Linked DNA regions of Homo sapiens: region 2 is linked to region 1. The links come from fine-mapping of genetic effects on gene expression. Tissue or cell type: lung. Region 1 holds a variant in brackets; the other region holds the start of a gene. All regions are shown on one strand. Distances are between the middles of the regions.

Evidence for each region. PIP is the estimated chance that this variant, and not a neighbour inherited with it, causes the effect. A credible set is the group of variants that fine-mapping cannot tell apart.
Region 2: it holds the start of UNC93B1, and the variant in region 1 is the best candidate, but not a certain one, in a credible set for the expression of UNC93B1 in lung (TOPMed, PIP 0.61).

Annotation. Positions count from the first base shown.
Region 1 is chr11:67,922,111-67,928,311 of GRCh38, forward strand. All of the region lies in intron 3 of LOC112268076 (translation initiation factor IF-2-like), which reads right to left. It also overlaps the pseudogene RPS3AP40. Among named protein-coding and RNA genes, the nearest start is that of LINC02754, 41 kb to the left of the region's middle. The variant G/A (reference allele first, on the strand shown) is at 2,738.
Region 2 is chr11:68,002,247-68,006,338 of GRCh38, forward strand. It overlaps UNC93B1 (unc-93B1 regulator of TLR signaling), which reads right to left and starts at 1,851. Exons shown (of 11, transcript NM_030930.4): 1 at 1,702-1,851; 2 at 1,411-1,552; 3 at 776-929. The coding sequence starts at 1,797. RefSeq lists enhancers at 404-603, 704-753, 854-903, 1,808-2,351, 2,352-2,894 and silencers at 1,204-1,613, 1,674-1,973.

The DNA of each region.
Region 1 (6,201 bases):
AAAACTGAGGGAAATCAGAGACTGGTGCCAGTGCAGGTCCTTGGTATGCTGAGCGCCGGTCCCCTGGGCTCACTGTTGTTTCTCTATACTTTGTGTCTTATTTCTTTTTTGTCTCTCATCCCACCTGACTAGAAATACCCACAGGTGTGGAGGGGCAGGCCACCCCTTCATTATGAGATTACAGGCAAGAATAACCCCACCTGGCCACCTAACTCACTCTTGAGAGGCCAGAAGTGATGCTGGAATTTTCTTCCTCTGTGGTTTAAAAAGGGAAAATTAGGGAGAACACAAGGCATGAGCGATGCAGCAATGGATATGTCTATATGGAGCTTCTGTCTGCATCCAGTAGAAAATGCATTTCTAGGCATCAGGTTTAAGAGCGAAAACCTGGAGTCTTGTCTGTTAGCATTCTCCTTCCCCACAAACCAGAGAGGGAATACATTTTGCTCCAGCACATCCGGATGTAGGAAATGTCACATTCCTATTTCTGTAACTTCACTTAAATCTGCTCTGAGTCCCTGGATGCCTGGCAGGTGGAGAATTCAATCTTGTCGTTACCAGCATTGCTTTCCCTTCTCCATGGGCTTATGTAAGAATTCTGGGCTTACACACTGTTGGAAAGCCAGGTAGGAACTACTTCCCCCGAACTCTCCATTCTTCCAGCTGCTCATGATCCATCAGCCTTTTTTGGGCCATCTGCTATAACAAGACCCTCCTCACAGCATCATTCCACTGACCCACAGGCTCAGCCCCAGGGACCCTCACTGTAACAGGTCTCCACTATGCATAGGAACTCACAAAAACCTTCTCTTCATCTTGGCTTCCTCTGATATCCAGCCACTCCCCTCTTCTCACCTTAAACACAGATGGCAGCTCCTTCCCATCATTCCAACCCTTGGGGATTGTCCAGCCAAATTCTCTTCAGACACCAAAGCTTCACCCACCCTCTTCATGGAGATGATGCAAGGGCATCTGAGATCTTTGGAAGCCCAATTCTGGCCTCTCTTTGGGGTGGGCTGAGAGTGGGAACTAGACTCTCTTTTCCAAGTGCCATGTTTATCTTGTTCATCATTATATTATCTCCAATGCCTGGCACATAGTAGGCACTACAGACTGACACATAGTAGGTGCTATTAGTGTCTGTATAATGGGACTCTTGAGGTCGAAGCTATTAGCAGAAACCTACCAAGCAAAAGGATGGAAAACCGACCACCAAAAAAAAAAAAAAAAAAAAAAAAAAATGAAAACAATCATGGCTTTGAGCTCTAAACACACAAGGCACCAGCCCAAGTTTGGGCAATTTTAATACAACAGCCATTTTGCCTCCAAACAAACTGGCACTGGAAACCTCCGTCTGCCTCTTAAAGAGAACCAGTTTCTCTTTCTCTAAGTGGGCAGCATTTCTCCCCGGTGACAGTACCCAGCCCACTGCCACCAGCAAAGGACTGCAGCCAGGAGCCAAGAGCTTGATAGTTTAAAGAATATATTTTATAGGGAAAAACAAAGTAACATCCACATAAATCTGGAAGTACCACCACTTTCCAGAGGCCGAATCCCATTTGTGGAGTCTCTTGCGTGTCAAGCACCTTGCAGTCACCTCAACTACATACTTTTGGGATTCGTTGCAGAGACGAGTGAAGGTTATCTGCAAAACAAAGGAACTAGGGCTCAGAATTCCCCGAGCAATCCATGACAGAGGAGGTGAGTAGAAAAGGGAAGGGTGAAGTCAAAGAGAGAATTCAGTGAATTGGCCAACACCAAGCAAGGATCATGGGACCCTCTCCATGGCTCCACGTCTCAAATGAAGTCAATAAAACCCATCAATGCTTGGTGTAAGTGTTGTATGCTCCCGGAAATGAAAGCAGGGGCCACATTTCAGGTCAGCAGGGTCGGGGGTAGAGGCAAAGGTCATGGACTTGTGGGCCCTGGAGGATGGGATGATTCTGAGACATTGAATCCCTACACTGATCTCAGTAGAAATCTCAGGTAGGGCTTCAACATTCGTGGCCCAAGGACTCTGTGTGCCTGAGAGCAAAAGCCTTGGTGCATGTCCCGGCTCCATCAATCCCAACTGGGGCTTTGAACAAGTTACTTATTTTTTTAACTAACGTTATTTTAATTGACAAATCATAATTGTACACATTTATGTGATGTTTTGATATGTGTATACAATGTGGGATGATTAGATCAAACTAATTAACATGTCCATCCACTAATTTACTGACAATTTTTATGATGAGACATTTGAAATGTAGTCTCTTAGTTATTTTGAAAGATACATTATTATTGACTATAGTCACGCTGCTGTGCTATAGATTTCAAAACACATAATCCAGCAACCCAACTTCTGGGTATAGACAAAAAAAAATCGAAATCAATATGTCGAAGGGATCCCTACATTCCTATGTTCACTGCAGCACTATTCACAATACCCAAGATATAGAATCAACCTAAGTGTCCATCAGTGGATGAAAGGATAAAGAAAATGTACTATATACACACAACGGAATACTATTAACTCTTAAAAAAGAAAGAAATCCTGTCATTTTCAACAACATAGATGAACTTGAAAGACATTGTGTTAAGTGAAATAAGCCAGGCACAGAAAGACAGATACTGCATGATTTTATTATATGTGGAATCTAAAGAAGTTGAACTCACAGAAATAGAGAGTAGGACAGTGGTTATCAGGGGCTGGGGTGGAGGAAAGGTAGGGGATAGGAGACACTGCTCAAAG[G/A]GTACAAAGTTTCCAATACGAAGAATAAGTTTTGAACAAGCTAAACTCCTCTGAAAGCTCAGTTCCTCATCTGTAGAGCGGGGACACATCATTAACCTTCTAAGGATGTTGCTGTGAGAGTAAGAGATGATGTTCAGCACAATACCTAATGCACAGTCAGGTCTTCTTAAGCTTGAACCTGCATCGCCATGACCTCTACATCACAGGACAGAAAGGCTCACAGCCAGTGTCTCAGTTCCCAGTGAAAAGTGGATCCCAGACCAGGCTGAATAGCAGGATCCCTAGGGGATACTCCACCCTACTGAGTCAGAATCACCGGAGGTAGAGCCTGGGTATGTATGTATGTGCGCGTGTGTGTGTATGTATGTATGCATGTATGTATGTATGTATGCATGTATGTATGTATAAGAGACAGGGTCTTGCTCTGTAGTCCAGGCTAGAGTGCAGTGTCACAATCATAGCTCACTGCAGCCTCAAATTACTCCTGGCCTCAAGCCATCCTCCCATCTCAGCCTTCAGAGTAGCTGAGACTAAAGGCGCATGCCACCAGCCCAGATACTTTTTTTTTCCTTCTTTTTGGAGAGAGTCTCACTCTGTTGCCCAGGCTGGAGTGCAATGGTGTAATCTTGGCTCACTGCAACATCTGTTCTCGGGTTCAAGTAATTCTCATGCCTCAGCCTCCGGAGTAGCTAGGATTACAGGCATGCACCACCACACCAGGCTAATTTTGCTCTTTCATTGTTGTTTCTTGATTGTTTTTCACAAATAGGACTTCTTATTTGCTACTGTTTTAAGCCTGAACTTTAAACAGATTCTTGGACTGGTGGTTCATATCCATCAGCTCATTCAACTTTAGCATGTGTCTCGTCCCTAGTGGGTTTTCCAGAACTACTACCATCACCACGAAGCTCCATGCCTTTCAAACCCAGGGTTCTCCAGCATTTTTATTTTTCTAATGAAGACATCATGGAGAGGATAAATTGGCAAGCCTTTTCTACATCTTTTCCAATGTTGTCTGGAATCAATTTATTAACCACTTCTTTCAAGTCATTTGTCTGCACCTCTCAGGTCATGATTTCCATCATCTTCTTCTGGATTTGGCAGACTGTTGGTGCTAAGCATAAGAGGTCTTCAGTATCAGATTGTTGTGTTTTTTAGTAAAACCAACACAAAACATAAGAAAGAAGTAACCATCGGTAGTCTTGACATCAACATGAGCTTCGATCATTGTTGAACATTTTTCAACCTTGGAACATATTTTGTCACAGGTAAGACCCATGCCATAGAAGTTAGTCAGGCAATTTTTGCCCTGAACATCTTCAGTAATCAGCTTGAATTTTCTAAATGCAACTTCATCATTCTGCAAATCTGCAAGACTCATTTCAAACACAAGACCCTTGAGACCATCAGATGCAATTTGGGTTCCTTGGGTCCTGGTGACCAAGTCTTTCCAATATTTCTTATATTGAACATAGCAGGTGCTTTCACATCATACTGATCTTTCTTAGAGAATGGACCAATTACTTTCTTCTTAACTCCCTTTTTGCCACCTTTCATAAGGCACTTGTTCTTAACAACCGCCATGGTGCTGCTCAGAGTACCAAAAGGCTAAATTTTATATTTTTGGTAGAGAAGGGGTTTCACCATGTTGGCCAAGCTGGTCTTGAACTGATATCAGGTGATCTGCCCGCCTCAGCCTCCCAAAGTGCTGGGATTACAGGTGTGAGCCACTGCACCCAGCTGATATTTATTTTTTATTTTTTTGTAGAGACAGGGTCTTGCCATGTTGCCAAGGCTGGCCTGGAACTCCTGGCCTCAAGCAATCCTCCCACCGCAGCCTCCCAAAGCACTGGGATTTCAGGTGTGAGCCACCGTGCCCAGCCTGGAATCTATTTTTAAAGCCAATCAAGTGTTGAATAAAATTGCAACTTGGGCTGTTTTTTCTTCGCATTTTTTACATTTCAATGGTTTTTAATATATTCAGAGATATACGCAAACATTACCAGTCAATTTTAGAACATTTCATGACCTCAAAAAGAAACCTCATACCCTTTAGCTAACACCCCCTATCCTCTCATGCCCCTAGCAGCCCTAAGCAACCACTAATCGACTTCCTATTTCTATAGATTTCCATCTGAATGAAATCATGTAGAATGTGATCTTTCATCTGTTTTGAAGGTTCATCCACGCTGTAGCGTATGTACTTTCCTTCCTTTTGTGATCAAATAATATTCCACCATGTGGGTAGACAACAACCGGTGTATCTCTTCATCTGGTGATGGGCATTTGGATTAATTCCCTCTGTGGGTTATTAGGAGTGATGCTATTGTAATTATTCATGCACAAATTTTTGTGTGGACCTGTGCTTTCATTTTTGAATATGAAAATATGGCACATCTCCAAGGAAGACATACAAGTGGCCAATAAGCACATGAAAAGATGCTCAATGAAATTCATCATCAGGGAAACAGAAATCAAAACCACAATGTGATACCACTTCATAGCCATAAGGATGGCTAGAATTGAAGATACAGAAAATTGGCCTGGTGTGGTGGCTAATGCCTGTAATCCCAGCACTTTGGGAGACCGAGGCAGGTGGATCACCTGAGGCCAGGAGTTTGAGACCAGCCTGGCCAACATGGTGGAACCCTGTCTCTACTAAAAAATACAAAAATTAGCCAAGCATGTGGCAGGTGACTATAATACCAGCTACTCTGGAGGCTGAGGCAGGAGAGTAACTTGAATCTGGGAGGCAGAGGTTGCAGTGAGCTGAGATTGTGCCACTGCACTCCTGCCTGGGTGACAGAACAAGACTTTGTCTCAAAAAAAAAAAATACAGAAAATAACAAGTGTTGGTGAGGATGCAGAGAAACTGGAACTTTCATACACTGCTGGTAGGAATTAGAATGCTTTAGCCACTGTGAGAAACAGTTTAACAACTTCCCAAACAATTCTACATAGAGCCCAACATGGGCTCTTTTAATCTATGGAAAATGAACTATGGGTACTTGGCAAGAACAAAGAGGGAGAGAGGAAGAAATGGTGCCATGAGGGCACATTGATTGGTCTCTAGTACACATGGCTCCTACTGCAAATGGTCTCTAAATGACTTCATCAGTTGCTCATAAAAAAAATCACCCTCTGCTCCAATCGTGGAGGAAGAAGTATGGATTGGACCTGGTGAGCCACGGTAAGACTGACTGCTAAACTTTATGAATGATGAGGGGATTTGCACGTATAATCTTGACTGTACTAGATTTTTTATTTTATCCACTGTCTTTGAAAACCTAACTCTTGACTAAGAACTGACTTTCCTGTACTTGCTTTTGACTCTAAGTAAATTTCCAATTCCTCATAGTCCAAAGATGATGTTTTGAGAAATCTCTCAAAGGAAAAATGCTAATACAGGAAGAGTTATGCGGCAAATTTTGCAGAATTTACACAAACTGTACTTGTAGGTACGA
Region 2 (4,092 bases), 79 kb after region 1:
GGACAAGGATGTGAATGTAATCCATGCATGCTGGTGGGACAGCATGGGTAGCCGATTTCCTGGAGGGCTTAGATGGGGTTTCTTTTTTATGATTTCAGTTATTCTAATCCTGCCTGTGCAACGGGAGATGTTTTAAATTTTCAAATTTTTGTTTAAATGGAGTTTTCTCTTGTTGTTTTGTTTGTTTGTTTGTTTTAAAGATGAGGGAGCTCAAATTCACCTAATTTGTCCACTGGTCTCCAGGTCCCATCAGGGAGGGCACTGTGGACCGGTGATGGGGAGGCTGAACCACATACCTCCAGGGCTCAGATCTGGGGGAGAGCTCTGGGGCACCTGCCCAGCCATGCCTGTCTGTGAGAAACACCCCCTCAGCACCAGTCACAGCGACTGGGCCAGGCATGGGTGCCTGGACTTTGCTGACCGATCAGAAACCCCTAACTCTACAGCCCCAACCCTGAAGGCCACAGTGGCTCTGGGAGGCCTCCAAGGAGGCCACGAGGAGGGTGCCACGTGAGGCCCAGGCAAGCTGGGAGGGAGCTCAGCCCGTGTGAATCTGTTGCTGGAAACCAAATGTGCCCTGAGGCAAAGTTCCTGTTTCCTTCCCCAAATCCGAGTTTCACCCCCTTCACTCTCAGGCTTCCGGGTAGAAAAAAACCTCTCCCTTGTTCCCTCGCCCCACAAACACCCCGGCAGATGGACACCTCCTGGCCCGCCGGCCTCTGTACCCCTCCGAAATGGGAGTACCGCAGCATCCCACAGGAGCAGCCGCGCCCACCTGATGAGCACAGGTGTGTAGAGCAGGGCGGCGATGGGAGTCACGTTGATGCCCATCAGCATTTTGCTGTCGATGTCGGGCAGCCCCATGTTGCCATACTTCACCTCGCGGTAGGTCTCGTCGTAGTGCAGGATCAGCTGCATCTGCAGGAGGCCTGGGGACAGGACAGAGAGCGGCGTGCAGGGAGCAGCCTAGCTTTGGGCGCCACCGAGCAGAAGACGGCATGCAGGCCTCGCAGGGAGCTCCAATCACCGAAGGCATTCCCGCTGACAGCGCCCCTCAGGACAGCGGGGTTCCCGGGCTGCGCCACGCCTTCTGCCAGCCCGCGGCCACTTGGCCAGCTAAGCCCAGACCCCCACCCGCCTTGCTCCGCCGGCCTCCAATTCTGACGGTGGCAGGTCTGTCCGGGAGCCCGGACCCCCGTCCCCCACCCACACCGAGGCTCTGGCTGGGACCCGGGGACGCTGCGCTACTTGACCCCCCAACCCCACCCCCGCCGCGGGGGGCCGTGGCTGCAGCTGCGAGGGCAGCGGAGGGGAAGTGAGAGCGGGCGGGAGGCGGCGGCCCGCGGTTTCTGTTTCCCGGGCCGGGCTGGGAGCGGGCGGGGCGGCCCCGGGTCCCCGAGCGGCACCTACCCAGGTAGACGCCGTAGGTGAGCATGCCCCCGGCGCTGGCAGCCAGCACGTTCTTGAGCACGCCCAGGCGCTTGCGGCGGTAGTAGCGGCGCTCCTCCTCCTCCTCGTTGTAGTTGGGGTACGCGCCCACCAGCTCGTCCAGCTGCGAGCCACGCACGCCGCTCGCACCCGCGATCGCGCCCCGAACCCGTGTCCCCCGGTGCCCGCCGCCCCCCGGCCCGCCCCGCCCCCGCCGGGGGGACCCTGGCCCACAGGGGACGCCCGCGCCTCGCACTCCGGGTCCCCGCTCACCGGGGCCTCGGGCCCGTCCGGGACCCCGAGCAGGTCCTCGTCGCCCTGCGGCCCCGCAGCCCCCGCCATCGGGTAGAGCGGCGGCTCCGCCTCCATGGCCCGAACTACTGCGGACTCGCGGCGGTCGCCCCGGAGTCCCTGCGACCGCCCGGCCACTTCCTCCCGGCGGCCGGGACCTGCCCCCGCCCCGCCCTGTCCCGCCCTGCGGGCCGCCTCCTCCAGGACACGTGTGTGTGTATGTGTGTGTGCGCGCGCGCGCGCGCGTGTGTGCAGGGGCCTGCCTGTGTGTGCCCTCTGGGGTGTGAGTTCGAATCCCCACTCAGCCACCTCCTGGCCCTGTGACTTTAGGAATTAACTCCATTTCTTTGTGCCTCGGTTTCCTCCGTTTCCTCGACGGTAAAACAGAAATACATGGCACTACCCCCGGGGCCATGGCGGAACTATTGAGTTAATGCAAAGCCTTGGAAAAGTGCCAGGGTTGCCTGGCTCCCTTAAGCTCCCCTCAGGGTTGCCTGGGTCGTCCCCAGCCCCACCTCCAAGCCTGCTGTTACAGCTCATCAAAGAGCACTGCAGGGACAGTAGCGTCACCACCTGGACCCCACCTCCCACCACCGGACGCTACAGCCAGAGCCCACCTCCCATGTCCCCATCCTGCTCCAGTTTGGGCTGTGCAAATGGGAGCTTGAGTGGGTCCTGGGAGGTGGAGATTGTGATCCCCACTGAACTACATGGGGGACCCTGCCACAACCATGTAGTGGGGCCCAGAGCCACCTGCCCCCATCCTGCTGGGCACTGGATCCCGGGCTGCAGCGGGAGCCTGTGGTGGGGCCGACACTCCAAAGCACTGGCTACCACCGACCTGGCTGGAGCCACGGGGCCACTTTTGAAAATATCCAGATTCTCTCCCCTGGGTTCCTTCTGGTTTGAATGCTCTTCCTGCTGCGCCTCCCAGGTGGCTTCCTTCCCACTCAGCTCTCAGAACAAGAGACCATCCCTGCAGAGAATGCAGTCCCTTCACTTCCCTTCTGGTTTTCCATGCCCTCCCTGTGCACCCCCCTCCACCCACTGCTCTTTAGGTACATCCTCTCCCAAATGCAGAGGATGGCATTGGGCACCTACTGAGTGATCAATACTTGTGACTGGATGGGTGCATGAGTGACTGGATGACAAACACCTCCCACCCCGCAAGGATTGCTGGGAAGGTGGGGGGAGGCGTGAATCTGCAGTGGCTTCAGGCTTCCAGGAGGTAGAACTTTCTCCAGGTGACGATGCCCAAGTGCAGATGTGGGGAACAGACAGGTGGATTCATGCAGGTGGGTGGCTGGAAGTGGGAGACAGGAAAGGAGCCGAAGAGAGGGCAGGGCCCGAGGCGCAGGGGCAGGGAGGAGGTGGGAGAGTATGGCTATGGCGGGGGCCGTTCTCAGATGGCAGACACCAGCATCATTACACAGTATGATGAGAAAGTGCAATTCTCCTGACTCAGCCTTGTGAGTAGCTGGAATTACAGGCGTGTGCCCCTACACCCAGCTGATTTTTGTATTTTTAGTAGAGATGGGGTTTCACCATATTGGCCCAGGCTGGTCTCGAACTCCTGACCTCAAGTGATGTACCCGCCTTAGCCCCCAAAGTGCTGGGAGTGGGCCCCCCGAGCTTCTCAATTTCCCTGAGGGACCCCAAACTTCTGGGGCCTGGTGCAATCTCTTCCTCCCCTTGTTCCTCTGGGCCTGGGGGTTGTGGCGGTTGCTATGGTTGCCCATCCTGGGCTCTTCCATCACCTGTGCTGTACCACCAATTCCCTGCACTCAATGTCTCCTACTCAAAACACCTGGAGAGGGTCGGGCGCTGTGGCTCACGCCTGCAATCCCAGCACTTTGGCTGGCCAAGGAGGATCACTTGAGCTCAGGAGTTCAAGACCAGCCTCAACAAAGTGAGACAAACCCCCCCCCCCAACCCATCTCTACAAAAAATACAAAAACTAGCCTGGTGTGATGGTGGACACCTGTAGCCCCAGCTACTCAGGAGGCTGAGGTGGGAGAATTGCTTGAGCCCAGGAGGATGAGGCTGCAGTGAGCTGAGATTGTGCCACTGCATTCCAGCGTGGGTGACAGAGTGAGACCTCTCAAACAAACAAACAAACAAAAAACAAAAAAAACAAAAAACAGCCCTGGAGGCACTAAACCCTGACTGATACACCTCCTCTCTCCAGAAAGGATTTTTTTTTTTAGGTGGTTTATGGAGCTGCTCTTGGGGAGCCTGGAGACTATCTAAGAGGCTGATAGGGTGGCCCAGATAAACACACCAGGGTGACCTGCGGGACAGAGATCTGAGCAGGGCCAGCACCTCCACCAACCCATCCAGGTTGCAACAGTGCACAGTCACATCCCCAGGAAG